Regions from separate parts of the Homo sapiens genome. Here all the other regions are linked to region 3. Evidence: fine-mapped expression QTL. A gene starts in region 3. Each other region holds a variant in brackets. All regions are shown on one strand. Distances are between the middles of the regions. Region 1 overlaps PLCG2 (phospholipase C gamma 2). Region 2 overlaps PLCG2 (phospholipase C gamma 2). Region 3 holds the start of PLCG2 (phospholipase C gamma 2). Region 4 holds the start of LOC124903731 (a long non-coding RNA gene). Region 5 overlaps PLCG2 (phospholipase C gamma 2). Region 6 overlaps PLCG2 (phospholipase C gamma 2). Region 7 overlaps PLCG2 (phospholipase C gamma 2).

Region 1 (4,066 bases), 64 kb after region 3:
GTACAACCTGGGTCCCTCACATGTGCAGTTCTCAATAAGGTTTGTGCTGCCATGAGAATCTAACGCCGCTGATGATCTGACAGGAGGTGGAGCTCAGGCAGTAATGTTCGCTAGACCCCTGCTCACCTCCTGCTGTGCGGCTCGATTCCTAACGGGCCACAGACAGGTGCCAGTTCATGGCCTGGGGATTGGGGACCCCTGTCTTGGAGGCAGCTCCCTTCCGAGTGGCAAGGAACAGGGCAGGGCACGTGGTCCCTTGGGGGTGGATCCAGCTAGAACAAGATGAAGAGGCTGAGTATCCTCAGTTCCTTTTTCCAGGGAGTGGTCCCTTCCTCCCTTGGGGATGGGGAGTCCCAGAGGGGAGAGAAGCACCAGTTTCCCCAGTATCACTTAAAACTCTTATCTATTGAATAGTTCTGCATGAATATGAAGCATTAGAATCACAGACCTAATTATTTGAGCATAATGATCTGGGAAGAATCTCTTCACATGGAAGCAGGACACTGATTTTCGCCTCTGCTGTCAGCGCAGTGGCAACAACTCTGTTGTTTATTATCTTTTTAACAAAGAAGATAAGGGCAGGCCCACCCCCTATCTGCAGGCCAAAAAGTAAACTTTATTTATTTATTTATTTATTTATTTATTTATTTATTTATTTATTTATTGAGATAGAGTCTCACTGAGTCGCCTAGGCTGGAGTGCAGTGGCATGATCTTGGCTCACTTCAACCTCCGTCTCCTGGGCTCAAGCCGTTCTTCTCAGCCTCCTGAGTAGCTGGGATTACAGGCACCCAGGCGCTTACTACCATGCCCAGCTAATTTTTGTATTTTTAGTAGAGACAGCATTTCACTATGTTGGCCAGGCTGGTTTCAAACTCCTGACCTCAAGTGATCTGCCCACTTCGGCCTCCCAAGGTGCTGGGATTACAGGCATGAACCACTGCGCCCGGCTGTAAACTTTACTTTTTGCAAAGTTTTTTTTCAGATATATCTCTATAGGGTGTATGTTCTTTTTCCATTTCATAGATGAGAAAATAGACAGTAAGCCAGAATAGAGGCTTCTTCATACAGCCAGGAGAGAAAGAGCTGGATTTAACTCATGCCTGCTAGATCCTTCTAGAGCTGGGCTCTTTCTGCTCTACCGTGTGTGCCTCGGAAGCCCCTTTTGTCATTACATGTTCTTCTGCTGTGTATCTCACCTATTCCCCCAGCTGCCATGTCAGACGCTGCTACATGTGTGAAGTAACCTAACACCTTTGGTTTTTCTTAAAGCAGGGTCCTTGGCTGAGATCAGTAAGCAACGCTGGGGCTTTTTACTTAAAGTGAAACCACCAGCAGCTGGGAAGCTGGTGTTGCAAGGTGGTACAGAAAACCATTCAGCCTAGTAGCTAAACTCACCTTGGTGGAGCCCTCCTGGGGCCACGTGATTTTTATTTCATGTTATTTCATTTGGTTTGCATGACAACTCAATGATAAGCATCACTGCTTGTACAGCGGAGGAAACAGCAAAGAGAAGGGATGCAACGTGCCTGGTTCCTGTGCACCCCTGGGGAGCATAAGCCAGGATTTGAACCAAGGTCTTTGTACTCCAGAACTCCCTACAAAG[G/A]GAGGCTTTCTCCTCTTCTTCCCAGGTGAGCTCCAGTCTGCAGAACTCAGCCAGGATGCATGTGCTCAGAGAAGCCTTTCTTCCCCTTGCTGGGGAGGAGCCCCAGTGTGGACTCTGTTGCACTCCTGATGTGGATGGAGATGTGGATATTCACATATCATATGCCGGCCTGGACAGGGCCTGTCCTCCCTCCCAGACTCGGAGCCGTCTGAGGGCAGGACTGTGTCTGTCTCTGCAGTGTGGCATCCCTAGCGCTCAGCGTGGGGTTCTGTGACTGCCTGGTTGACTGAATAACTGAAAGTCGGAAAAGAGGTTGGGGTATGTGTGGGAAGGTGCCCAAGCCTTCTGTCTGTCTGTTTGCTCGCTTGAATATGTCTTGAGCTTCCAGAGAGAAATTTTTGTTAAGCTCATTGTCAGGTGTGGTGCCCCTTGAGGTCATGTATGGGAATTGGGGAAAAAGCCATGTTCCTGGTGTCAGGGGTGGGAGGACGTTCCGTGGGTGCAGGGAGCCTGAGAGAGACAGAGAATCAGTAGCGGGAGGAGGAAGGAAATGGGAGCTTGAAGAACAGGGTCATGGCCCGGCCAGCAAAGGGGTCGGTGGTGTAAAGCGGGGAGTGAGAGGAAGCTATGAGACGTACGGAGGGGCCAAAAGTCCGCAAGGCTGTGCCAGAAGGTGATGGGTAGGCAGGGAGGGCTGAGGGAGGGTGGCTGGAGTGGGGTGCCGGCCTTTGAGGCTGACTCTAGGAGACTCAGTGTGTGGGGGTTTGTTTGCAGGGGGTGGGAGTGGAGGGATGGGTGGTGGGGGTGGGGTGGACCTGGGAAGACCCGAGGTGATGCTGGGAAGGGGGTGGGGTTGTGCAAAGATGAAGCCTCATTTCTGTGGCTGGGTTATCTCACTTTCTTCAAGCAGGAAACTCGGCCACTGAGCCCCACCATGCAAGAGTGCATGGCCTGAGGTCTGCTGACCACAGCCTACTTTGAGAATAAAGTGTTGTTTCAGTCACTATGAGCCCTTGGCAAAAATTTGAACCCATGCAGACAAAGCCCTCCTTGACCATCATTTGCCCATCTCCTTCTCACTAGTAGTGCCTGTTGTCAGCAAGTTGGTGGAAATCTTTTGGTACCCTTTCTCACACCTTTACACTCATACGTGCACACTTACAAATAGGCACATTCCTTCTTAGCTGAATCCAGTACATTCCTGAAAACACACTGGAGAGGAACATTTTTGGATTGCAATATATTACATCATATTACACAGAGACAAGCGCTGATGCATTACCAACTGATTGAAACACCCCAGCCAATTTCCTTAGTATCACTTAACAACCTTAAGTACCTAAAATCAGCCTACCAATATTTTTCGCGTGAATACAAAGCATCTACAGCAACAAATGCCCAATTTTTGGGTGCTTTGATGAACCCATTGCTAAGCATGTTTGCAAAAAGTACATAGGATACTATACAGTAATGTTTCTGAATTAGGATATTCTTCTATCCTCCAACTACCTTGTACTGTAATGGAAAAAACAATGAAATGATCTGCTTAAAATACTAAAGATTCATTTAAATTGGACCCTGGTTGGTAGTTTGCTTGTCAGAAGCAAATGCTGGGATGAAAGAAGAACTCAATAGAATGGGCAGGATGCCGGGTTTGATGTGCCGTTGGTTGTGTGTCTAACTGCTTCTCTTCCATTGCAGACAGACACGCCTTTCCTTTCCTTTTCTGTTTCTGTTTCCTTTTCCTTTTTCCTTTTCGTTTTTCTTTTGTTTTCTTTTTCTTTCTTTCTTTTTTTTTTTGAGAAGGCGTCTTGCTCTGTGGCCCAGGCTGGAGTGCAGTGGTGTGACGTCGGCTCACTACAAGCTCTGCCTCCCGGGTTTATGCCATTCTCCTGCCTCAGCCTCCCGAGTAGCTGGGACTACAGGTGCCCGCCACCACACCCGGCTGATTTTTTTTTTTTTTTTTTTTTTTGGTATTTTTAGTAGAGACGAGGTTTCACGTGTTAGCCAGGATGGTCTCTATCTCCTGACCTCGTGATCCACCCGCCTCGGCCTCCCAAAGTGCTGGGATTACAGGCGTGAGCCACCGCGCCCGGGCACCTTTTCATTTTTCTTTTCCTTTCTTTTCTTTCTTCTTTCGGATGGAGTTTCACTCTTGTTGCCCAGGCCGGAGTGCAGTGGTGTGATCTTGGCTCACTGCAACCTCTGCACCCCCACAATGGGTTCAAGTGATTCTCCTGCCTCAGACTTCCTAGTAACTGCGATTACAGGTGCATGCCCCCATGCCCGGCTAATTTTTGTATTTTTGGTAGAGACAGGGTTTTGCCATGGTGGCCAGGCTGGTCTCAAACTCCCAACTTCAAGTGATCTGCTTGCCTAGGCCTCCCAAATCGCTGGGATTACCGGCGTGAGCCACTGTGCCTGGCCCACACCTTCACTGTTTTCATTGGCACCTAGGTGC
Region 2 (4,066 bases), 100 kb after region 3:
CTGTTTCTTGTTTCTGAAATGGGGCTTATTTTACTACCTGATGGGATCAGCAGGAGGAGTGACTGAGACTGTCACCGTCTTGCCCCAGCTCATGGAGCCCATGTTCATTTCCTGGGGCCGCTGTGGCAAGTACTGCAACTCGTGGCTTAAAAATAACAGAAGTGTCGGGCACGGTGGCTCACGCCTGTAATCCCAGCACTTTGGGAGGCCAAGGCGGGCGGATCGCGAGGTCAGGAGATCGAGACCATCCTGGCTGACACGGTGAAACCCTGTCTCTACTAAAAATACAAAAAAAATTAGCTGGGCATAGTGGCGGGTGCCTGTAGTCCCAGCTACTTGGGAGGCTGAGGCAGGAGAATGGCGTGAACCTGGAGGCGGAACTTACAGTGAGCCGAGATTGCGCCACTGCACTCCAGCCTGGGCGACACAGCGAGACTCCGTCTCAAACAAACAAAACAACAAAACACAGAAGTTTATTCCCTCACTGTACTGGAGGTTAAAAGTCCAAAATCCAGGTGTTGGCAGGGCCACACCCCTCGGAAGGCTCCAGGGAAGGATGTGTTCCAGACATCTTTCATGGCTTCTAGTGGCTGCCAGCAATGCTTCAAGCATTCCTCGGAGTGTGGACACCGCCTGGCTGCTGGTGGCTGCCAGCAGTCCTACAAGTGTTCCTCGGTGTGTAGATGGCATTGCTCTTTGGTGTGCAGACACCATCACTCCTCGGCATGTAGGCGTCATCGCTTCTTGGCGTGTAGATGTCATTGCATCGCTCCTTGGCTTGTAGATGTCATTGCATCGCTCCTTGGCTTGTAGATGTCATTGCATCGCTCCTTGGCTTGTAGATGTCATTGCATCGCTCCTTGGCTTGTAGATGTCATTGTGCCAGTCTCTGCCTCCATCATCACATGGACCCCTTTTCTCTGTGTGCTTCTCTGTCTCCAAATCTCCCTCTTTTTTTTTTAATTTTTTTTTTTTTTTTTTTTTTTTTTGAGAGGGAGTCTCGCTCTGTCACCCAGGCTGGAGTGTAGTGGCGCCATCTCGGCTCACTGCAAGCTCTGCCTCCCGGGTTCACGCCATTCTTCTGCCTCAGCCTCCCGAGTAGCTGGGGACTACAGGCGCCCACCACCACGCCTGGCTAATTTTTTGTATTTTTTTAGTAGAGATGGGGTTTCACTGTGTTAGCCAGGATGGTCTCCATCTCCTGACCTAGTGATCCGCCTGCCTCGGCCTCACAAAGTGCTGGGATTACAGGTGTGAGCCACCGTGCCCGGCCCAAATCTCCCTCTTTTAAGAAGCCAGGCACTGGATTCGGGTCCACCCTAACCCAGCAAGGCCTCATCTTAACTTGATTGCACCTTGCAAAGACCCTAATTCCAAAGAAGGTCATGCCCATGGGTACTGGGTATTAGGACTTGGACATATATTCCCGGGGACACCATCCTATACATAATACTAGCTATAACTTTTTCTATCTTTAGAACGTCTTCCTTGATCACCTGTGCCCCATACTGTCAACTACAGCCCCATTTATCTGCCCCCTTTAAAGTAACCTACTCCAAGAGCTGTCTACGCTTCCCTTCTTCCTACTGTCTCTTGAGTCTATTCCCGTCTTGTTTCCATCCCTGCCTCCTAGAGCACTTCATCTTGGCACGTCAGCCATCACCTCCATGTGTTGCGAATCCAGAAGTCTGCCCCGTGGTCTTTATCTTGTCCACTCAGCAGCACGTGTCAAAGCTGGTCACTCTCTCCTTGATGTTGTAACTTGCCTTTGGGATGCCCGACTGTCTTCCTTATCTTGCCTCTCACTGTTGGTTCTCTTGCAGCGTTTGTGGCTCTTGGCTTTCATTTGTTCTTTTTCATTCTCTGTCCTGCTCTGCGTCCCAGGGGCCAATTCCTGCAAACACGTTCCCAGGTGCCTGTGCCAATGAGCTTCCGGTTGCTTCAACAAGCAGAGTGTCCGGGCAGGGAGTTGCAAGACCTGGCAGAGGAGGGGAAGCCAGGTCTTTCCTGGTTCTGGGAGCATCTGTACCATGGTGGTACCTCTGCCATTGTCCGAGCTCCCTGAGTGGGGGAATGCGGTGCGGGCTTTTTCTGTGCTTTGTTGAAAGGAATGTAAAGGAAGGAGAGGGCTGAAGAATTGCATGTGGTGGTCAGTGAGGGGGGCCACACACTGGGCTCCCTCCAGATGTAAATAAGCTGGGTGTGGGGCTTTGGGCTTGGAAGTGTTCTAGCCCCTGATGCCTTCAGCA[G/C]CAGGCTGACTTGGTGACCTAAGCAGTAAATGAGTCCAAATAGCAACATGCCCTGTCTAAAATCTGCAACACCACCCCTTTTTAAAAAGAAATACCTATGCTGTAAATTACACATCAACGAAAGGAAGTACTTCTCAGTTTGCCTAAAAAGGCTAAGTTTGCGGCTCTTAACCTTTTGGTGGGACCTACTCCTTTGAGATGCTGATTATGTCTCCAGAAGAAACACACACCCACACAAACTGATGTGGACTCTCTGATGCTTCTCAGAGGCCTGCGATTCCCTTTCTAGAACCCTGATAGTCCCCATGACGTCCTGGGCTGCAAGGAGTTCAGCAAGAGGACCCTGGGTCATCTGGGGTAGGAGATGTTTTATGTCGTTAGCATTGATCATGTGATAGTGGATACATTTCCCTAAGTGCTTATCCAATCGCAGTGTCATTGAAGACTGTTGAAGCAAGGCTACCTGGGCAGAAATGGACAAGATGTGGGTGTGCAGGGTGCCTGTGTACAATGCACAGAAAATGGGCTGGTGCAAGTAGAAGCTGGAGGGAGGGGTGCTCCATGGCGCCCCCCTTGGTGGAAGAGCCTCTTCATCATGCAACAGTTGGCACGGCAGTGGGCTGTGAAGAGAGGAGCTGAAGCAGTCCGATATTTCTTTCGTCTTCTTGCCTTCGAAGATTAGAAATGCATCTTTGAAATACTAAAGATTTGAAATGTTGCCTGTAATCCCAGCTACTGAGGGGGCTCAGGAGGGAGCATCTCTTGAGGCCAGGAGTTCAAGACCATCCTGGGCAACATAGTAAGACCTGCATCTCTACAAAAAGAAAAAATATTAGCCGGGCATGGTGGCGCATGCCTGTAGTCCTAGTTACGCAGGAAGCTAATACAGGAAGATCATGTGAGCTCAGGAGAGTGAGGCTGTGGTGAACTATGGTCGTGCCACTGCACTCCAGCCTGGGTAACAGTGAGACCCCATCTCTAAAGAAACCTGGCAGTGAGGATATAGAAAAAGGTATGTGTACCCCAGTGGAGGTGCCTATCTCAACTGTTTTGAGAGCACCTTGGCAGAATTTATCAAAGCCAATGTGCCTACAATGTGCTGTGTCTACGCGCTTTTCCTTCTAGGACTCTACTCTGTAGAAAAACTGGCACAAGTGGGCAAAGATAGAGAAATAGGCACACAGGGACACTTAAAAATAATACTAGATGTTACAAAAATCAAGTGACATGCTTATTGTGGAATACAATGGTTTTTCAAAGAAAGGAAACAGGGTTATTTGAGGTTGCAGAATAATATGTAAAGCTTGAAACACAGCAAAAAATTGTGAGATGTACGTAAATGTTATAATATGATATGATACCATTAAATGAATATCCCTAAAACAAATTCTAGAAGGAAACCTATGAAATGCTTAAGGGTGACTGCTTCTTGGGAATACGACTGTGGAGGGAATGAGGAGGGCTTCTACCTTTTGCTTCTTAAGTTTCTGTTATATTTGAATATTTACAACTAACATCAACTAAAATGATATTTTTAATGATCTTGTTGCATCTGACAAAATGATGCTTTTTTAACAACAAAAATCTTTCCGTTTTTGCATTAAGTGACTTGTCTAAGGTTCTTTTTTTTGTGTGTGCTTTCCATTTCAGATTCTCGATGAATTCAAAAAGGATTCGTCCGTGTTCATCCTGGGGTGAGGCAGCTCTTGTGTGTCGTTCGGGGCGGCTGTGCCGGACCTCGGTGCCTGGTGCCCAGCCGGCCTCCAGGAGGGGATGCCTGTGTGTGCAGGCGCTGACCTCCAAAGGGGCAGGGGGCC
Region 3 (4,066 bases):
CCTCCCAAAGTGCTGGGATTACAGGTATGAGCCACTGCACCTGGCAGATTATTTTTATTTTGAACAACCAAGTTAGAGTTTGAGAAAGAGATGAAGGGCCTCCAGTACTCTCTTTCAATCCACTGATTCCTTCAGTCGTTCACCTGGGGGGTGGGGTTGGGCTAGGGGTTGGTTAGCAAAAAATGAGCCAAAGAAGAAAATGAATTAAAAACATGAAAGAAAAAAAAGCAAACTGCCATTTACGATGACCATTATCTCACACACAGTGGACATTTTAACTCAAAAATACTATAGGCTCACAGGCATAGATTAAACAGAGAAACCTGTTCTTCATGTTCTTATTTTTTTGCTTGCTTCCCACAGATGAGAGAAAAATCCAGCCAGAATTGGCATCTGTCAAGATAGGCTTTTAGGAGCCACGGCTCCCTAGAGTGGTCTCCACACATTCTGATTATATGCAATCTCATTTTGCCATCAAGAGACTTAACCCACTCCCCTATCCATGTAGACTTTGTAATAATAAATTATACATATATATGACTGAACTAATATATTATGTACTTTATATAACACATACTAAAACAAAAGTGTGAAAAAGATTGGTTGAAATAAATACAAGCTGAAGTTCTAAAAAAAAAAAAAAAAAAAAAGTGAGGCAAAGGAATTGCCCCTAGATGTAGTCATTTTTCCTGGGGAATTGGCCCAATGACTTCAAGTGGTTGATGTCATAATGAGTCCTTCCAAGATCTCTTTAAAAAATTGATGTGTTAAGTGATCTGTGGTGATGAGCACAGCTATACACGCCAGTTGGGAGTGCTGAAAGAAATGAATCCACAGATCTTGTGAAGTCACAAACGAGTCCTATGGCTTGGGATACAACATTGACAGTGAGAGTGATATTCCTCAATTAAAAAACGCTATAACAGGCCGGGTGCAGTGGCTCATGCCTGTAATCCCAGCACTTTGGGAGGCCAAGGTGGGTGGATCACTTGAGGTCAGGAGTTTGAGACCAATCTGGCCAACATAGTGAAACCGCGTCTCTAGTAAAAATACAAAAAATTAGCCAAGCATGATGGCATACACCTATAATCCCAGCTACTCAGGAGGCTGAGGCAGGAGAATCGCTTAAACCTGGGAGGTGGAGGTTGCAGTGAGCCGAGATCGTGCCACTGCACTCCAGCCTGGGCAAGAGAGCAAGACTTTGTCTCAAAAAAAAAAAAAAACAAAAAAAAAACAAAAAAAAAAACAAAAAAAACCAAAAACACACACACACAAAAAAAACGCTATAACAGACCAGTGGCACATGCCTGTGATCCCAGTGCTTTGGGAGGTAGAGGCAGGAGGATTGCTTGAGGTCAGGAGTTCAAGAACAGCCTGGGACACATAGTGAGACCTCATGTCGAAAAAAGAGAAAATTAGCCAAGTGTGGTGTGCCTCTATAGTCCCAGCTCTTCAGGAGGCAGAAGCAGGAGGATCGCTTGAGTCCCGGAGTTCGAGGATGTGGTGAGCTATGATGGCACCACTGCACTCCAGCCTGGGTGACAGAGTGAGACCCTGCCTCTTAGAAAACAGAAGCTATAACTCAAGCAACTTGGAAGTGAAATTCAAGTGCCTGACAGCTGTCTAGGTGCCCCTGAAACTGCCTCTAGTCACAACAAAGATACCTCCATCAAAGAGCATAGGAAGGGTTTGAATCAGATAGCTTCATGCAACACACGAACGGAAAAATAAATTTCTTAAAGAACATATTAGCTTCTTCCCATGAGATCAGGAAAACGGGACATCAATTGTCTGGGGTTCTTTGCTCCTGACTCCCTTTGGGGCTGGCACTATGTTGATCACGTTTTACAGATGGGGAAACTGAGGCTGTCGGTTTTTAAGTGGTCTGCCTAAGGTAGCAGTAAGGGTTGGTCTGACTCCAGCGCAGCCTCAACGAGGGCTTCAAATTAGGGCCATGAATTGGCAATTCCTGGCGGGTAATTGTGAAGAGTATATTTATTTTTAATTTTTATTTATTTATTTTTGAGACGGAGTGTCTCTCGGCCACACCCATCCTAGCTCATTGCTGTCTCGAACTCTCGAGCTCAGACGATCCTCCCGTCTAGGCTTCCCAAAGAGCTGGGATGACAGGCGTGAGCCCGGGCGCCCGGCCGGGAGTGTGTTAAGTATACGGCAAACACCTGGACTGCGGCCGGCTCTCCAGGAATGCCATGATATTGGGGAATTCCCTTTGCACCTGGCCAAGTGGCCTCGGGCAGGTAGCCTCCCCTCGGGTTGCCTCAGTTTCTTCTTTGGCACGCAGAGGCGGGGCTCCAGGCCTGGGCCGCTCCATGGCGGGGAGGGCGCGGGGACGCTGCACTCGGGGTGCGCTCCGAGAGGCGGACCCGGCTGGGCGCGCCTGGGGCGGGGCGAGGCGGGGCGAGGCTGGGCGGTGCGGGGGGCGGCCCCCGAGGATCACGTGGCGCGGCGCCGCGGCCGAAGCAGAAGTAGCGAGCGCCGGCGGCGGAGGGCGTGAGCGGCGCTGAGTGACCCGAGTCGGGACGCGGGCTGCGCGCGCGGGACCCCGGAGCCCAAACCCGGGGCAGGCGGGCAGCTGTGCCCGGGCGGCACGGCCAGGTGAGCTGCCCGGCCGGGAGCGAGGCAGGCAGGGCGCCCAGGGACCTGCGCCCCGCGGGGACCGGCTCCCAGGGCGCTGCGTCCGAGGGGGTCTGCGTCCTGGCTCAGCCGGAGCGGGCAGGGACGGGGCGCACCCTCGGGGACCCCGGCCCGCCGTGCCCGGGGTCCGTTTGGTGACGGCAGGGATCCTGGCCCAGCCGCTGGCCACTTCCTCACCCCGGGCCGGCGCCACCTCTCCGGTCCGTGCGGTGGGGCGGCCCCAGCTTTGAATGGGGACCGGGAGGAAGGTCAGGGGTCGTGTGGGGGCTGGCGTTCAAAACTCCTCTTTTCGAGCGGCTCTGCGTGGGGTGGCGCCGTCTCTCTTGACGGCCCTTGTGCCCAGAGCTCGCGGACGCTCGGAGCCACACTTCCCTGTCTCACTTCGGTGGTTGCGGGTGGCGGGTGGGAGCGATACCGCGGGAGGCGCAGTCCTTCCCGGAGACTTTTGGAGAGCTTGCAGGACACTCGCGATGCCCGCTCCGCAGCTGTCTGCGTAATTATGCGTGTGTCTGTGCGTGTTGTGTTTTGTTGTGTTTTGGAATCCCAAAGAGGGCATTACCCGCACAGCGCAAGAGTTCAGGTTAAAGACGTGCCCCGTTTGGACGGGGAGCTCCTGGATTCCAGCAGGACGGTGGGGCGGGGCTCTCTTGGTACCCTAATCTTGAACTAGGGTGAGAAACTATGGGGGGCGGGGTGGTAAAGGGGTGACATGGCGCGAGGGAAACAGGTGGCCTTGCCCGTCGGAACTTAATTTGAATTTCAGTTCCATCAGTGGGACCCTGGGCAAGTTGAAGAACCTTTTTGAGTCTGTTTCCCCCTCTGGATACTGGAGCCACCCAATTTTCCAGGGCTGTGTCGAGAATTGGGGCTTATTGCTGTTCCACGAGGTTCGCTGAGAATCGGGGCGCATCCATGGAGAGTCCTTGGGCAGTTCCTGACTCTCTGGTTCAAGGGCATTCTCTGGGGCATGGGCCCTCGTCCTTGACTACAGTTCTGCGGGGAAGTTTTACAGAATTTTGAAGTCTATGCCAGCCTCAAGCAGTTTCTCTTGCAAAGGTGTGTGTGCAGTCACGTGTATACCAGCTCAGGGACAATCGTCATTGTGAGCCTCACTGATGTTTAAGTCACCTAATGATGCAGCTGCCTTCCCCCACCAGCGACTGGAGTATGGGCAGTTCCTCTGGAAGTGGAAAAGCACAGACCCCATGAATAGCCCTTTTGCACTCATTGGGTAGAGTCAATGAAAAGCTGCTGGTGAGAAAACTTTTGAAAACATTTCTTGGTCAGGCACGGTGGCTCACACCTGTAATCCCAGCACTTTGGGAGGCCGAGCTGGGCTGATCACTTGAGGTCAAGCGTTCCAGACCAGCCTCACCAACATGGTGAAACCCCATCTCTACTAAAACTACAA
Region 4 (4,066 bases), 54 kb after region 3:
CTGGTAAGACTGTGTCTTAAAAAACAACAACAAAAAAATGTGTGGGGTGTGTGTGTGTGTGTGTGTATATATATATATACACACATATATTTTATATATGTATATATATGAATGAAATGGCAAAATCATCTGCCAAGGGCTGCAGCTGACTCCAGAGGACCCTGGAGGAGACTGACAGACACAGTGTGTGATAGTGGAGGGGGATGGGAAGGGTGAGGGGGGCATCGGGCTTCTGGATGACTGAGGGTATATGCAAGTGCAGAGACAGCGTGACTAGAATGTCCAGGCAGGAGAGGGGAGATGGACAGGCACTGCGGGTCATGAGGGTTTCAGAGAGCATACGCAGTGTGTCCCAGCTGGTGACAACCTTGCTCTTCCTACAACCAACCATACACATTTCCATCTTGGGGCCTTTGCATTTACTATTTGCTCTGCCTGAAATATTCTATCTCAGACATCAGCCCAGATGTCACCACCTCTGGGGAGGCCTCCCTGATAACACCTTCTATGAGAGCCCCTCCCTCCTGGTCACACACCATGCTTTGCTCTTCTTTGGTTTAGTTTTTGTAGCACTTGTGATTGCCAAGTGTAATAAATATTGACTTGTCTCTGTCTCCTCCTATTAGAATGTAATTCTTCGAGGCCAGGAATTTGGTCTGTTTTATTCATAGCTGTATCCCCAGCTCCCAGAACAGTGCCTGGCACGCTGGCTTTTACCTACTCTTTGTTGACCTAATGGCTGAATGAACGGACGTGACCATCATCGTGAGAATCTGTGGATAATAGCAGCAAACATTTAAACACAGGCTGTGTGCCAGGCACTGCACTAAGCACTTGGCCATGAACTTGGTCTCCTTAAATCCTCATGTCAATGCCACGAAACTGGCCCTCTCTATTTGTCTCAGTTTTACACCTGGGGACATGGTGGGGTTAGTATTTGAACCTCATCCAACCCCATACTCCAGTTGGGACCCCTGGCTGGGTCTCTGACCAGTGCTGGGAAAGAGGGAGGCAGGTAGATTTCAGCCCCAAGCTGTGGAGTCCAGCAGGCATTTGTACCCCGAGTGGGACTCAGATCCTTGTGTTAGGGGGAACTTAGGCCAGAAGTGCCTGGGCTAGAGGGTAATGGGGACCCCAGGAGGCTCCCCGCTCTTGCCCCAATCCTGCCTTGTCTGAAAGGGAAGGAAGGCTCTTACCTTCTAGCTGTCTGCAACAGGAACTGCCGGGAGGCCACGCTAGCCATCCCCCAACTTTGGTTTGCAAAACTCTGAGCCTGGTGGGGAAATGAAGGGCTGGCTTGCTAACCACAAATGAAGACTCATTTGCACAGGCAAAGCGGGGGCAGGGGTGACTCCTCTTGCCCTAGCGGAAGGGACTGACTTCTGCAGGCTGCTGTCTTGCTGGAGCCAGTCATGCCCCACCATTGAGCCTGGGCACTCGGACACAGTTACCAGCAGTGGGCTTTGTCGTCCTCCGGCCTCAGTCTTCTCCTTTGATAAATGGAGGGGGGGAATAGTGATATTGTGGCGATTCTGTGGCACTCAAATGAGGAAATGCACATAAAGCCTTTGCTCAGTGCCTGACTCATGGTGAATACTTGGGGGGATATTCACCATCATTGTTAACAGTGGTAGTGGTCAGAGGTGGCAGTCACCATCAGAGCCTCTCTCCTGGGCTCCGCTCCACATGGCAGCCACATTTTAGGAATAATCCTCAGATTAAGCAAAAGAGGTTAAGTGAATATTCCCTAATGCATGCTCTTCTTTTCCTTTTTGAGTAGAATCTGTCCCCACCCTGCCTTTTTTTGAGACACGATCTCACTCTATCACCCAGGTGGGAGCGCAGTGGCATGATCACGGCTCACTGCAACCTCTGTCTCCTGGGTTCAAGCTATCTTCCCACCTCAGCCTCCCAGGTAGCTGGGACTACTGATGTGCACTACCATGCCCAGCTAATTTGTGTGTGTGTGTGTATGTATTTTTTGTGGAGATGGGATTTTGCCGTGTTGCCCAGGCTGGTCTTAAACTGCAGAGCTGAAGCCATTCTCCTGCCTCAGCCTCCCTTAGTGCTGGGATTACAGGCATGAGCCATTGCGCCCAGGCAGAATCTACCATTTTAATTACACTTCTGTGAGTGGTATGATATCCAGTTGACTGCGTGAGGATCAGATCCCATTCTTGCAAAGCTAGAGAATGAGGCAGAGGCCTGCCATCCTTGCAGCTAGTGGGAGACCCTGTGGGTGACCCATTAGCCATAAGAGAGCAGGCTAAGTGCCCAGATAGGAAGGTGTCAGCGTGTGAGGCCCAGGCAGCCAGTGGTCAGCCGATACTTGAAGGCCTCCTGTGTGCCCAGCTTGCTGCTGGGGCCATGACAGTAACTGAGGGAAACAAGTCACGCTTGTGAGATGTGATGAGGACCTGGAAAGGGAAGTCCAGAAG[C/T]GGAAGGCAACCTCTCAGAGAGGGGGTGTCTTGTGGGGACTTACAGCCAAGGTGAGGGTGCTTTCCTGCTGGCACCCACCTCGCAGAACCCATTCCTTCCCTGAGTCTGGTCTGTGAGAAGAGCCCACAGCATGAGGATACCACGTTTGGGGTTCAGCAACCCCAGAATGAAAATCACCCTTTAAAGAAGGAGTGCTTTACCTTTCTGTGGGGGCCACAGCCTGGTTGTGTGTTAGAGTCACTGGGCTCTGGAGAAGCTTCTGGAGGACTGGGGCCTTCTTTCGCAATCTGTCCACACCCCCAGGGTCCTTTTTCCTGGACTGTGGCTCCGGTCGGTACACGGGTCCTGAGCCAGTATTCTGGCCCGGGGTGGCCGTTCCCTGTGGGTGAGGAGGAGGCACCTGGAAGCCCCTGGCCTCTCCTGTTAATCACTGACAAGGTAAAAGGATACTCCTGCCTGTTTTTTTTTTTTTCAATTTCAAAATTTAAAAAAATCTTTTTTTTTTTTGAGTCAGGATTTCACTCTGTCACCCAGGCTGGAGTGCGGTGGTGTGATCACAGCTCACTGTACCTTCCACCTCCTAGGATCAAGAAATGCTCCTACCTCATCCTCCTGAGTAGCTGGGACCACAGGCATGCACCACTACTCCTGGCTAATTATTATATATATTTTTTTGTAGAGGTGGGAACTTACAGCCAAGGTGAGGGTGTTGCCTAGGCTGGTCTCGGAATTCCTGGGCTCGAGCTGTCCTCCTGCCTTGGCCTCCCAAAGTGGTGGGGTTACAAGCATGAGCCACGGCGCCCGGCCTCCTGTGTGTCTTGCCTAACGATTGCCTTTGGCGATGGGAGTGCTGAATGCTTCTGGCATCTCTCTGTCTGCAGAGGCTTACCTGACTTCAAAGGAAGCATTCATCTTTAGCCAGAAGCTAGCAGGTTCACCCCAAGGTTTTCTGAGAGGTCATTCAGGGAGCAGCTGCTGGAACGTGGGAATGGGGACAGGAGGTAACTGGACTTACCTTGTCTCCGGGCCTTCCACTGTGGGCCACCCGCACAGACTACCCTGGTGTCTTTGGCATCAAAACCCAGCCAGGTGGCCTTGAATGGGTGACTTCATCTTCCTGGGCTGTCTCTGGAAAATGGGGCTTTCTTCCCAAGATTGGTGGGAGGATTAAAGAGATGTTGAGGTCAACTCTGACACCTATTAAATGTTCAGTAAGGGGGACCTGGTTTGTTCTCTGTCCCAGTAGGTGTTTCTGCCCTGAACTTGACCTCGGAGGGCTCGGTGTTCTGCTGGCTGCTGGCAGAATTGTGAGGGCGGTCTGTGTGAGAGTCTTAGCCCAGGAGCCGGCGCGGGTGGTGTTGGAGAACTCTGGGCCTGCAGCTAGACTGGCAGGACTCAGACCCCAGCTTGCCCAACCTGCCTGAGCCTCAGTTTCCCCTTCTGCAAAATGGAGTTGATGATAATGGTAGTTACTTAGGGCTTTGGGAGAGACCGCTGAGATGATGGACAGAGAGCACTCGTCACGTGGTTGATAGACCCTGGATCTGCAGAGCTGCTGCTGCTGCTGCTGCTGTTGGGAGTTTCAGAGCTGGGGCTCCTTGAGGGATGTTCCTGAGAGGAAGATTCT
Region 5 (4,066 bases), 120 kb after region 3:
TCAGGAGCTTGAGATCAGTCTGGCCAACATGGCGAAACCCTTTCTCTACTAAAAATACAGAAATTAGCCAGGCGTGGTGGTGCACATCTGTAATCCCAGCTGCTTGGGAGGCCGAGGCACAGGAATCACTTGAGCCTGGGAGGCAGAGGTTGCAGTAAGCTGAGATCGCGCCGCTGCACGCCAGCCTGGGCAACAGAGGGAGACTTTGTCTCAAAAAAATAAAAATAAAAAATAAATAAATAAAATAAAAAAGGCATCAACTACTGACTTAGGCTCCAGTGTTACCAAAACGACTCATCATGGAAGCAACGTTTTGTAGCAGTTACTCTATAGACTTTCTTCCCGTTTATGATTTTTCTCCTCCCTCAGGAAAAAACAAATGTTTAAAAGTAAAGCTTGAAGCAGTCAGCTCCTGTGCCCTCCAGGGGTCCAAAAGATTGGGGATGTTCATCTTCCACATGACCCATTTCTGTTTGAAAATATTACTGTGAACCTTTACAAATAAATTTCTCATTGCTCTGTATCATTTCCACGGGCAGAAAAGGCAGTCAAGGTTTTCAACAGGTAAAGTCAGAAAATAAAACACGTGGTAAAATCTTCTTTAAAAAGAAGCATTGAGGTTGGGCGTGGTGGCTCACGCCTGTAATCTCAGCACTTTGGGAAGCTGAGGTGGATGGATCATGAGGTCAGGAGATTGAGACCACCCTGGCCAACATGGTGCAACCCTGTCTCTACTAAAATACAAAAAAATTAGCCGAGCGTGATGGTACGCGCCTGTAGTCCCAGTTACTCAGGAGGCTGAGGCAGGGGAATTGCTTCAACCCGGGAGGCGGAGATTGCAATGGGCCGAGATTGTGCCACTGCACTCCAGCCTGGGCAACAGAGCGAGACTCTGTCTTAAAAAAAAAAAAAATGAAAAAAAAAGCAGCATTGAAACTAGCTTGTCTTGGACAGCTGCACTTGCATTATGTAAGCGCACAGGGAACCCTGCGGATACAGGGAAAGCCATGTCCTCGTGTTGGCAGCCGAATGGAGGGAGTGTGGGTGTCCTTGTCTAGTAACTGAACTGGTGTGTGGGCCGGGGGCTGACCTCGGGGCTGTCAGTGAACACACGTGGTATTGAGGCTGCCGCGTTTCTCCCTGTAGTGGACTGCTGGGACGGGCCCGATGGGAAGCCGGTCATCTACCATGGCTGGACGCGGACTACCAAGATCAAGTTTGACGACGTCGTGCAGGCCATCAAAGACCACGCCTTTGTTACCTCGAGGTCAGTTGGCTGATTTCTGGGTGGTGTGACTTAAAGGGGAAGGCAGCTAGGGTTGGATAGACAGATGGACAGACAGGCAAACACACACAGACACCTCCCTCCAAATGCGGGAAGGCCTGGGCCCCATCTTGGCCAAAGCCACTGCCATCAAGTTCTCACCCGAGTGTTGGCACCCCCTGCAGGCCGAGAGTGCAAGTTGCTCCCGGGCTCTAGAGCCCCGAGGAGGCTCTGGCTGGGGAACCCTGTGGCTGCTCAGTGCCCACCCCACCTCCTCATTCTGTCTGGCCCCCACTTTCAGAACCCCCGAAAGAGAGGGAAAGGCTGGGCGCAGTGGCTCACGCCTGTAATCCCGGCACTTTGGGAGGCTGAGGTGTGATCACTGAGGTCAGGAGTTCGAGAAGAGCCTGGGCAACATGGTGAAACCCCTTCTCTACCAAAACACACACACACACACACACACACACACACACACACACACACACACACACACACACACACAAATCATCTGGGTGTAGTGGCATGTGCCTGTAGTCCCAGTTACTTGGGAAGCTGAGGTGGGAGGATTGCTTGAACCTGGCAGGCAGAGGTTACAGTGAGGTCACATTGCGCCACTGCACTGCAGCCTGGGCAACAGAGCGAGACCCTGTCTCAAAGGAAAAAAACCCAAAAAAACAAAAACCAAAAAAAAAGTGAGGCAAGGAAAGTAAAATTCCCCTTCTGTCCTAATTCCCTCTTTTGTGCCCAGTTCTCACCCCCACCAAACCTGTTTCTACAGGCGGAATCCAAGCAGCCAGTAATGGTGGTGGTGTGTTTTTTGAATACCCACCTGGGGCCAGGCTCTGTGCTAGGTTCTTTGTACAGGTGATCATATTGATTCTTTGCCACAAAGTGAGTATGGTCATCCCCATTTAACAGATGAGTAAATTGAGACAAGGAGGGGTTAAATGGGTGAGAACATTTAGGTTCATTTCAAGGGTTTCTGACCTCAGGTGTAATCCTTTTCTGTCCCACCAGAAGATCTTGGTCTGGGCTGGAGGTCAACGAAATTGTTCTATAAAGAGCCAGATACAAATGTTTCAGGCTTTATGGGCCCTGTGGTCTCTGTTGCAACTATTCA[G/T]CCCTGTTGCTGAAGTGCAAAGCAGCCATGGGCAAGAGGTAAACACATGAGTCTGGCTGTGTTCCAGTTAAAACTTGAATTACACATTACAAAAATAGATGGCAGGCCAGATTTGGGGCAGAGGCCATCATATGCCGACTCCTGGTTTGGGTTCCTTGTTATTTCTGAGAGCTGGCAAGAGGCCTTCTATAGGCTCATTGGAATGATAGTTGTCTTTTTATACTTTCTGGGGTAGAATAGCAGTTACGAGTATGGGTTCTGAGTCCTTCTCGCTGAGTTTGAATCCAGCTGTTGAGTACTAGTTTGGGCAAAGCACTTACCATCCTATGCTTCAATTTCCATGTTAAAAAATAGAGGTGATAACTGTGTGCACCTCACAGGGCGGTTGTGATGATTAAATGAGATGCCATTACAGCAAGTGCTTAACCCTGCACCTGGCATAGAGTAACTGTTGAGTCAATAAGATCGATTATTTTTTCTCTTTTTTTCTTTTCTTTTCTTTTCTTTTTTTTTTTTTTTGAGATGGAGTCTCCCTCTGTCGCCCAGGCTAGAGTGCAATGGCAGGATCTCGGCTCACTGCAACCTCCACCTCCTGAGTTCGAGCAATTCCCCTGTCTCAGCCTCCCGAGTAGCTGGGATTATAGGCATCCACCATCATGCCCGGCTAATTTGTGTATTTTGGTAGAGATAGGGTTTCACTATGTTGGCCAGGTTGGTCTTGAACTCATGACCTCAGGTGATCCTCCCGCCTCAACCTCCCAAAGTGTGGGGATTATGGGCATGAGCCACCGTGCCCAACCCGATTGGTTATTTTTATTGCATTTACTGCAGATGTCCCTTGAGCTGGGTGGAGGTGTTGCTGTGAGACAATGAAATTATGGACGTCTTTTCGCACTTGGTGAAAACCTTTCAATGAAGGCATATGATTTCTCCATCGCAGCATTCTCCCCTGTGGGGTCCTAGCCCTTCTAAGTGCCAACCTCCATCAGGCAGATGGAAGGAGCTGGTATTAACAGACACTGTGCAGTGGCAGCTTACACTCTGCTTTGAGAGTTTGCTTTCATTTGCAGGACATAGGTGCTTATGGTTGTGAGCTGACAGTCATTCATCGAACATTATCTCATTCATGACTAGAGGAAGTTTTTTCTGGTTAAAATAGGGCTGGAATCATCTAACACCTATAGGGCTAGAACTCTGTAATCAAACATTAATGCATTAATGTTTTGGCAGCAAAAGCCATCCTTATTGGTATTAAGAGGGATTTAAGAAAATGATTGCAAGCAGCGTTCATTCGAATGGTTCAGATTTTGCTGTCAGTTACATTTTGATACCAACTTACTAGGTAGCCTTTGTTGTAAAAGCTTTTTAGCTGTTATGTTCTAGTAAGGGTGTGTGGATCAGGATCGGGGAGTGAGCTGGGTCCACGCTTCCCAGGAGTGATGAGGCTATGATTTACTTGAGCTGGAACATGGTTAAGGATTTTATTTTTATCATCGTCACTTTATTTTCACATTTGCCTTCATTTCTATTGAGTGACGTGATTTCCTATTTATGGAAGTGACATAGCTGCCTTTAGAATAATTTTGTTTCATAGTAAATGCCATGCACAAGCCTCAGATGGATTCTTGGTGGGAAAAACTCCATCTATACAGTATATTTCTTGGATAACTGGGGAAATTTGA
Region 6 (4,066 bases), 89 kb after region 3:
GAGAGGATGCTGGTCTCTCCCTTGCTCCCAGGGTGAGCTCCAACTGGGGCACCAGCATGAGAGGACGCTGGCCTCTCCCTTGCTCCCAGGATGAGCTCCACTGGGGCACCAGCATGAGAGGACGCTGGCCTCTCCCTTGCTCCCAGGATGAGCTCCACTGGGGCACCAGCATGAGAGGATGCTAGCCTCTCCCTTTCTCCCAGGATGGGCTCCACTGGGGCACCAGCATGAGAGGACGCTGGCCTCTCCCTTGCTCCCAGGTTGAGCTCCACTGGGGCACCAGCATGAGAGGACGCTGGCCTCTCCCTTGCTCCCAGGATGAGCTCCACTGGGGCACCAGCATGAGAGGACGCTAGCCTCTCCCTTTCTCCCAGGATGGTCTCCACTGGGGCACCAGCATGAGAGGACGCTGGCCTCTCCCTTGCTCCCAGGATGAGCTCCACTGGGGCACCAGCATGAGAGGACGTGGCCTCTCCCTTGCTCCCAAGATGAGCTCCACTGGGGCACTAGCATGAGAGGATGCTGGCCTCTCCCTTGCTCCCAGGATGAGCTCCACTGGGGCACCAGCGTGAGAGGACGCTGGCCTCTCCCTTGCTCCCAGGATGGGCTCCACTGGGCACCAGCATGAGAGGACACTGGCCTCTCCCTTGCTCCCAGGATGGGCTCCACTGGGGCACCAGCATGATCTGGCTCCTCTCCCCACGACCCCTCTCGCTGCCGCTCTGGTAGCGCCTGTTCCCACTGCTCCTCCACCTTCATCCTGCCCTGGCCCAGCTGTTCCTTGGACCACTCCCAGGGCTGAGGCAGAAAGGTTCTTGCAAGCCCCTGGGGCAACTTCCCTAGCCTGCTGGCCGCTGTGCCCAGCCAGCCCCAGCTGGCCCAACAGGGACTTTTTCTGCCCTCAAGGTCTGTCTGTGAAAGCCGTGGGTGCTGTCCCTGTGGTACCAGTAAGTGGGTGGGGAGCATCTTGTCATTTGAAGTCTGTGCTGTTACAGAGGCCCTTAGAACCAGAGGAAAGGCTGGAGGTGGGGACACAGGATGGCCAGAGTCACACTGGACCGTCTCCAGGGCAGCGGCTGGGCAGTGACGCGCTACTTCCTTCCGCATGCCACAGCAGAAGCTGGGAGGATGGTACAGGGAAACTAGGTGGTTTTCTCCTGCAAGGTGGGGCGAGCTTCCTCTCTTGACCACTCTGTCTCAGCTCTGCTGGACACTTGGCTCCAGCCAGAAGGGTCTGGATCTCATATTCTTGACCCACCCACCCCACTAATTTCACTTCTCCTTCTTGTGTGAGCTACTCGCTTGGAGGCAGTCAGGTGTGGTCATTATGGGCACACTGGGTTGGAGTTTGAGGCTAGCACAGATAAGGTACCAAACTGATCGGTGCCTCAGTTTCCTCACCTGGAAGATGGAGATGATCATGGTACCTGCCTTGTAAAATTGTTCAAACATCAAACAGGTGAATGTGCATATAAGGCACCACCTAGAACAACACCTGTCACCTGATAAGCACTATTGAAGTTTCAGCTTTTGTTACTATTGTTACTGCTGCTGCTGCTCCTTTTGCCTGGGACGTGTTCTCCCTTGCTTCCCTCCCTTTTCTTTTTTATTTTTGGAGATGGAGTCTTGCTCTGTCACCCAGGCTGGAGTGCAGTGGCGTGATCTCGGCTCACTGCAAGCTCCGCCTCCCGAATTCACGCCATTCTTCTGCCTCAGCCTCCTGAGTAGCTGGGACTACAGGCGCCTGCTACCATGCCTGGCTAATTTTTTTTGTATTTTTAGTAGAGACGGGGTTTCACCGTGTTAGCCAGGATGGTCTCGATCCTCTGACCTCGTGATCCGCCCGCCTCAGCCTCCCAAAGTGCTGGGATTACAGGCGTGAGCCACCAC[C/A]GTGCCTGGCCCTCGCTTCCCGCTTCAGCTGAACCTCACTATGTGGCTTCGAAGAAACACTCATGCAGATTCCTGTGACCGAGCACTGGAATTTGATTCAAATCCAGGCTCTGCTGCCTGCCATCCAGCTCTAAGCCCTGAGTTGTGTACCCATGTGACACCCCACCCTTGGCTGTTCTGAGCCCTGGGGGTCAACCATGTGTACTTTGCAGAAGGTAGAATCTGGTGAACAATTAGGCAACTTTAATGCCTGGATGACCCCAGGGCAGCCTGGCACACAGTAGGTGCTCATGTAGGCCTTGTTCCTTCCCACTTCCCCTCCCTGGCCCTTAGTGACCTTGCCTTGCTCTGAACCCCAGTGGCATTAAAAGAAACCTTTATTTTTTTACTTATTTTTGGGGGTGCAGGGGGTCCCCACTTACTCTGCATCCCTCTTGTCTCTTCACAGTGTCAGACTAGAGTCAAATTCAGCTGGGTCTTTCCTGGCTGATTCTGCCAAGCCCGTCCTGTGGTTTTGGTTCCTCTGGGTGGCAGGTAGAGTCAGTAGGAGTCTTGTTCATCCATTCATGTGTGTCGCTAATTAGGTGACAAAGCATTTGGCTACATGAAGAGTGTCATAGTTACTCCTGATGTTTACCCAGGCTTCATTGAATTTCTTCACTTTGACATTCAGAGTCCTGGGCAGAAATCACATCATGTCAACACCTATATTGGGCCTTTGGCATTTCTGTGGCATTTTGTATTGAGATTATCTGGTCATTTGACATCATTTTCTGCCCACACTGAATCTCCTGCAAGACCTTCCTCCATGACCATTCCTGAAGGGTGGAGACCAGCCCTTCTCACTGGGACATCACCCTATACTGGGGATCTCCAGTGTAGGTGCCTCCTCATTGGGGCATCACTGTACGCTATAAATCTCTTATGTGACCTATGTCCCTGGACATACCTGAAGGGTGGAGACCAGCCCTCCTTATTGGGGCATCACCCTACCCTGTGAGTCTGCTATGTGACCCATGTCCATGGACATTGCTTGAGCCTTGCTCATTGAAGTGTCACCCTTACCTTGACTCAATGTCTTGTTCCCAGTTAGTGGTCCATAAATAACTGTTGACCAGGCTCTCTCATAGAGGGCTGCCTGAGGTGGGAACTGATGGGAGCAGCTAAATCCTGTGCTGTTGAAAACCCTCAAGGTGACAGAACTGGGTCTCCCTCTTTTGCAGCATCAGTCTCCGAGAGTTGAAGACCATCTTGCCCCTGATCAACTTTAAAGTGAGCAGTGCCAAGTTCCTTAAAGATAAGTTTGTGGTAAGTTTCATGGCTCAGCCTGGGAATTTTATGAATGCGGAGTGACTTAGCCTCTCTCATGAAGCCGTGGCTTGCCTTTGAGTTCCGTGGAATAGTGCACAAGAAAATCCTTTGCCTCCAGAGTACATCTTAGTTCAGACAGAGGGATCATGGACATATCTGAGGACCATCGTCTCAATCCTAGCAGAGAATGTAATCAATAAAGACCATGTTTACTGAGCTCTTGGACTTGGAACATCTACCCTCAGACCTGTTTTCCATTAGTCCAGCTTTCCCTATTTCCCTGACCATACTGCAGCCCATTTTTTCCCTAGTGAAATGAATGCATGTATGTCTTTTGGAAAATATTATGAAAGATTCCTTGTGTAGGGTACCAGGACCGTGGCATTTTGTATGCAAGTCCTGGTAGTGTAGCTGTCAGAGTTGGCTCTTTTTTCTTCTGTTTCTCCAACCATCCATCCTTCCATACATCATTAAATTTATTTTGTTGTGTAATCAAGTTATTGGTGGGTCTGGGCAGTAAAGCCACTCCATGAGTGATGGGATATAGTAGAGCAGGTGAGGCAAGGATGGAGACAATGGGCACCGATTTTTGCTTACAGGGAAATACTCATTCTTCTTAGGAAATGAGCAACCCTGCATCCAAACAGCCCCAGTTGGAGGACTCCAATGCCCATTTTCAATATCAGCTCCATTACAAGGTTCCTCAGTGCAAAAAGCTCATTTCATTTTTGTATTAATGAGCTCCTGGAAAAATTATCCCATTTTATTGCTTATCAAGCATCCTTTGACCTGCCCCCAATATTCCACATTAATCCAATAATAGAAAAAGAGAAAAGGGTAGGTCAGAAGAGGAGAGAGATGGGAG
Region 7 (4,066 bases), 83 kb after region 3:
GCATTGTCATTTCGGAAATCATTTCCGTGTTGATGCACAGAGCGCTGCTCCCAATCCTTTATCATTACTGTGATTAATGCTGCTGTGGAAACCTTTGGGTCTATCTTTCTGTAAACTCATTTGAGGGAGCTGTGAGTGGGGTAAATTCTCAGAAACGAATACCAGCAGCACAGCGTTTGCTGGTCTAATAGTTTGATAGCGAGAGGTAGCAATTTGTATAATATTTCTACCAGTGGGGCAAGAGGGCACCCTTTCCTGATGATTTATTGTGCCATTAGACTTTGATCTTTGTTCATCTGCAACCGAGGCAACCAAGTGTTTTTGCTTAAACTTGCTTTCTTTATGGGTGAGGTTGAGCATTTTTAATTCATTATGTTTTTGAGGTATGATTCAGCTCTTGATAATGTAATGATAAAAACTACCATTTGGCCAGGCGCAGTGGTGTACACCTATATTCCCAGCACTTTGGGAGGCAGAGGCAGGCAGATTGCCTGAGCTCAGGAGTTCGAGACCAGCCTGGGCAACACGGTAAAACCCTGTCTCTACTAAAATACAAAAAATTAGCCAGGCATGGTAGCACGCTCCTGTAGTCCCAGCTACTCAGCCTCAGGAGGCTGAGGCAGGAGAATTGCTTGAACCCGGGAGGTGGAGGTTGCAGTGAGCCGAGATCGCGCCACTCTACTGTGGCCTGGGTGACAGAGCAAGACTCCGTCTCAAAAAAGCAAAACAAAACCAACCAAACAAAAAACAACAAAAAAACCCACCACGACAAGAAAAAACCAAAAAAACCAAAACCAAAACCAAAACCAAACCCTACCATTTATTGAACAACCGTGTATTTGGCATGCCAGGGATTGCATTGAGCTCTTCAGTCCTTGTCTCATGTTAGCCTCACGTGAGGCACCTTATTTTTTTGGTAAAATATTCCTTTCATTCATTCTTGATTTATTTATGTCATTATCCTATGTGGATATGTCATTATCCCATCTAGATGTGTCATTATCCTAGTTAATATCCAATAACTAAACTCTGTCAGCTCTCTTATTTTGTTCCTGAAAATCTTTCCATCTTGAAGGTGACTTCGTGTCTGGTCAGTGTCCTCTGTTACTTGTTAGCTTCAGGGTTTGGGTGAGCTTCCCTGGTTTCTTCACATGCCCGATGGGAGGATTTGGAACTATTAACTAGGAAGTGGTTAAAAGTCTAGTAATGTTAGGTCAGCCATTAGCTCACTCCATGTTTTTCTGTCCACCTGCCTTTCTCTCCGTCCTCTTCTTCTCATCCAAAATGCCCTGCCTGCTCCGCCACGCTGGGCCACCCTCTCGTGTTACTGAGGTGGATCAAATGAGGTGCTTGTGTTGGAAGATTTGGTACACACTGGTCTCTTTCAGCCTCGGAGGTGATGCCTCTTCTGACTTTTCTTTCTCTGTGGCTTATGATGATTCATAGCTGAGATTGGCACAGGGCTGAGAGAGGGAGCCACCCTCAGTGCCTCTCTCCACGCGGTGCTGGTATGGTATGGCCAATCTGGCTCTGAAGTCGGCTCTTCGTTTGTGAGGTCAAGAAATGGATACCACCCTCTTGCTCAGGAGGCATTCTGGCAAGTCCTGCATAGAGATCCATCTTCCCATCGGCTGGTCCAGGACCCTCTGCAGAGAGAAACTTTTCTGTTTCTGGACTGAGTTCATCCCTGTGTGCTCACCGGCTTCCTCTCCTCTACCTCCCTCCCAGTGGGCAGAGCCCTGCTCTCTGTCAACATGTGGAAAATCCCACCTTTCCTGTGGTTCTGGGAAGCCTGGAGGGAGCTTTGCAAAAGAAACTTTGACCAAGATGCCAATGAAAGAGCAACTGACTTCTGTCCTGCCAATTTCCCTCCCTTTCCTGTCACCCACGAGACGAATCGTGTTTCCTGAAGGAAAACAAAGGAGCCACAGAGGCAGAGGAAAGACTGAAGGCGAGAGGGGGCAGGCTCAGGGCTGGCCCAGCCCGGGCAATGGACAAGTCTTAGGTGTTTTGCTTGGCCCAAGCACGCTGTTTCATTTTTTGACTTTTCTAGAGGCAAATGGTAGCAGCGGGCATTTGTTTACAGCCTTCTTTGCAGCCGTGGCTGTAATAAGCACTTTACATCCTTAGGATATGCTCTTGGCTGACGGTTGAGCTAGGTGCTCTCAGACACGTTTTCTATGTGAGGACACTGAGGCCCAGAGAGGTTAAGTGACTTGACTAAAGCAGCCCAGGTTGTCAGGGGTGGCACCAGGGTTTGCAGACTTACTTTCCCCACTGGTGTTGCTTTTCCTTTTTTCTTTTTTCTTTTTTTAAATGTGCTACTGGCCGAGCATGGTGGCTGACACCTGTAATCCTAACAGTTTGGGAGGCCAAGGCGGGTGGATCGCTTGAGCTCAGGAGTTGGAGACCAGCTTGGGCAAC[A/G]TGGGGAAACCCTGTCTATACAGAAAGTACAAAAAAGTTAGCTGGGTGTAGTGGTGCACATTTGTAGTCCTGCTACTTGAGAGGCTGAGGTGGGAGGATCATCTGAGCCCAGGGAGGTCAAGGCTGCAGTGAACCATGATTGTGCCACTGAGCTCCAGCCTGGGCAACAGAGTGAGATCCCATCTCAAAAACAAAAACAAAACAAAACAAAACCAAAAACAACGAAAATAAAAACAATTGTGCTGTTGAGAGCTGGGGGAAATGCAGAAATCTTCCCTTCCCCACCCTGACCAATCACCTTATGATTAAAAAAAATTAAAAACAAATGTTAAAATTTGTTTTATTGTGGTAACAACAATGAAACATAGAACAACATTGATCATTTTAACCGTTCTTAGATATGTACTTCTGTGGGATGAAGTATATCATGTTGTCATGCTCCCGTCACCACCATCCATCTCCAGAACTTTTTATCATCTCAAACTGAGGCTCTGCAGCCATTAAGCAGTAACTCCCCATTGATTCTCTCTTTAGCCCCTGGAAATCACCACTCTACTGTCTGTCTCTCTGGATTGGATTGCTCCAGGTACCTCATATAAGTGGACTAGCAGAATATTTGTCCTTTTGTATCTGGCTTATTTCACTTAGTGTAATGTCTCCAAGTTTCATCTGTGTTGTAGCATGTGTTAGAATCTTCTTCCTTTTTAAGGCTGAATAATATTCCATTGTACAGATAGACCACATTTTGCTTATCTACTTCTCCATCGATGGACACTTGAGTTGCTTCCACGTTTTGGCAATTGTGAATAGTGCTGCTGCGAACATGGGTGTACAAATCTGTTTGAGTCTCTGCTTTAAATTCCTCTGTGTATATATCCAGAAGCTGAATTGCTGGATCAGTTGCTGGATTGCTGTGTATATATCCAGAAGCTGAATTGCTGGATTTATTTTGCCGGATTGCTATACTGTTTTCTGTAGCAGCTACACCTTCCCAAGGCAGTGCACAGGTTTCTGTTTTCTTCATATCCTCACCAACACTTACTTCCTTTCCCTCCTCTGCCCTTGCCCCCTTGGCGTATAACATTGGATTTGCATAAGTAGAATGTGCACTTCCCTTTGTCCTTTAGCCCTGGCAGGGACAGAGGAACTACTCTACCAGGAGGTGGCAAAGGGTGAGGGGGTTGCAGGTGGAAGGCAGGTGGGTGAGTCCATTTATCTCATTCAGCGTGAATGCAAATAGGCTTCCTATTTGAGACTCCAGAATGTTAGAGTCACCTGGGGAAGCTTTGGCAGAGCCACGGCAGTAGTGATTCGGGTTTTACTGTTCTGGGCATGGCCTCTGGCGTTGCAAATTTTTTAAATAAGATTCTTCTGTGAAGCTGGGGTTGAAAATTAGGGCTGTCTAGAGGGCAATTTTCAAATCTGAGCATGCACCGGAATCCCCTGGAGGATTTGTGAAAGTGGAGGCTGCTGGGCTCCATCTCACAGTGGCTGATTGAGTAGGTGGTGGGCAGGGCTCAAGAATTTGCATTTCAACCAATCCCCAGGTGATGTAGATGCTGCTGGTCTGGGAGCTACTTAGAGAAGCAGAACTCTGGGGCTGCGCTGTCCAGCAGGGCACCCCTCACCACAGGTGGCCATT

The links. PIP is the estimated chance that this variant, and not a neighbour inherited with it, causes the effect.
Region 1: its variant is the best candidate, but not a certain one, in a credible set for the expression of PLCG2 in whole blood (INTERVAL, PIP 0.51).
Region 2: its variant is the best candidate, but not a certain one, in a credible set for the expression of PLCG2 in atrial appendage (GTEx, PIP 0.61).
Region 4: its variant is the best candidate, but not a certain one, in a credible set for the expression of PLCG2 in whole blood (TOPMed, PIP 0.89).
Region 5: its variant is the best candidate, but not a certain one, in a credible set for the expression of PLCG2 in prefrontal cortex (GTEx, PIP 0.82).
Region 6: its variant is the best candidate, but not a certain one, in a credible set for the expression of PLCG2 in whole blood (INTERVAL, PIP 0.74).
Region 7: its variant is the best candidate, but not a certain one, in a credible set for the expression of PLCG2 in lung (TOPMed, PIP 0.56).

What each region holds. Positions count from the first base shown.
Region 1 is chr16:81,840,590-81,844,655 of GRCh38, forward strand. The region is part of intron 2 of PLCG2 (phospholipase C gamma 2); the gene reads left to right. Among named protein-coding and RNA genes, the nearest start is that of PLCG2, 63 kb to the left of the region's middle. RefSeq lists an enhancer at 2,143-2,202. The variant G/A (reference allele first, on the strand shown) is at 1,606.
Region 2 is chr16:81,877,011-81,881,076 of GRCh38, forward strand. PLCG2 (phospholipase C gamma 2) reads left to right here. Exons shown (of 33, transcript NM_002661.5): 8 at 3,900-3,943. Among named protein-coding and RNA genes, the nearest start is that of PLCG2, 100 kb to the left of the region's middle. The variant G/C (reference allele first, on the strand shown) is at 2,250.
Region 3 is chr16:81,776,809-81,780,874 of GRCh38, forward strand. It overlaps PLCG2 (phospholipase C gamma 2), which reads left to right and starts at 2,483. Exons shown (of 33, transcript NM_002661.5): 1 at 2,483-2,616. LOC105369213 (a long non-coding RNA gene) reads left to right here. Exons shown (of 4, transcript NR_189584.1): 4 at 364-545. RefSeq lists silencers at 1,976-2,270, 2,299-2,568, 2,599-2,698, 2,709-2,788.
Region 4 is chr16:81,830,602-81,834,667 of GRCh38, forward strand. The region is part of intron 2 of PLCG2 (phospholipase C gamma 2); the gene reads left to right. LOC124903731 (a long non-coding RNA gene) reads right to left here and starts at 1,293. Exons shown (of 2, transcript XR_007065139.1): 1 at 1,197-1,293. RefSeq lists enhancers at 643-1,224, 1,225-1,806, 2,497-2,546. The variant C/T (reference allele first, on the strand shown) is at 2,439.
Region 5 is chr16:81,894,661-81,898,726 of GRCh38, forward strand. It overlaps PLCG2 (phospholipase C gamma 2), which reads left to right. Exons shown (of 33, transcript NM_002661.5): 13 at 1,147-1,267. Among named protein-coding and RNA genes, the nearest start is that of SDR42E1, 110 kb to the right of the region's middle. The variant G/T (reference allele first, on the strand shown) is at 2,385.
Region 6 is chr16:81,866,101-81,870,166 of GRCh38, forward strand. PLCG2 (phospholipase C gamma 2) reads left to right here. Exons shown (of 33, transcript NM_002661.5): 6 at 3,114-3,198. Among named protein-coding and RNA genes, the nearest start is that of PLCG2, 89 kb to the left of the region's middle. The variant C/A (reference allele first, on the strand shown) is at 1,891.
Region 7 is chr16:81,860,262-81,864,327 of GRCh38, forward strand. The region is part of intron 5 of PLCG2 (phospholipase C gamma 2); the gene reads left to right. Among named protein-coding and RNA genes, the nearest start is that of PLCG2, 83 kb to the left of the region's middle. The variant A/G (reference allele first, on the strand shown) is at 2,425.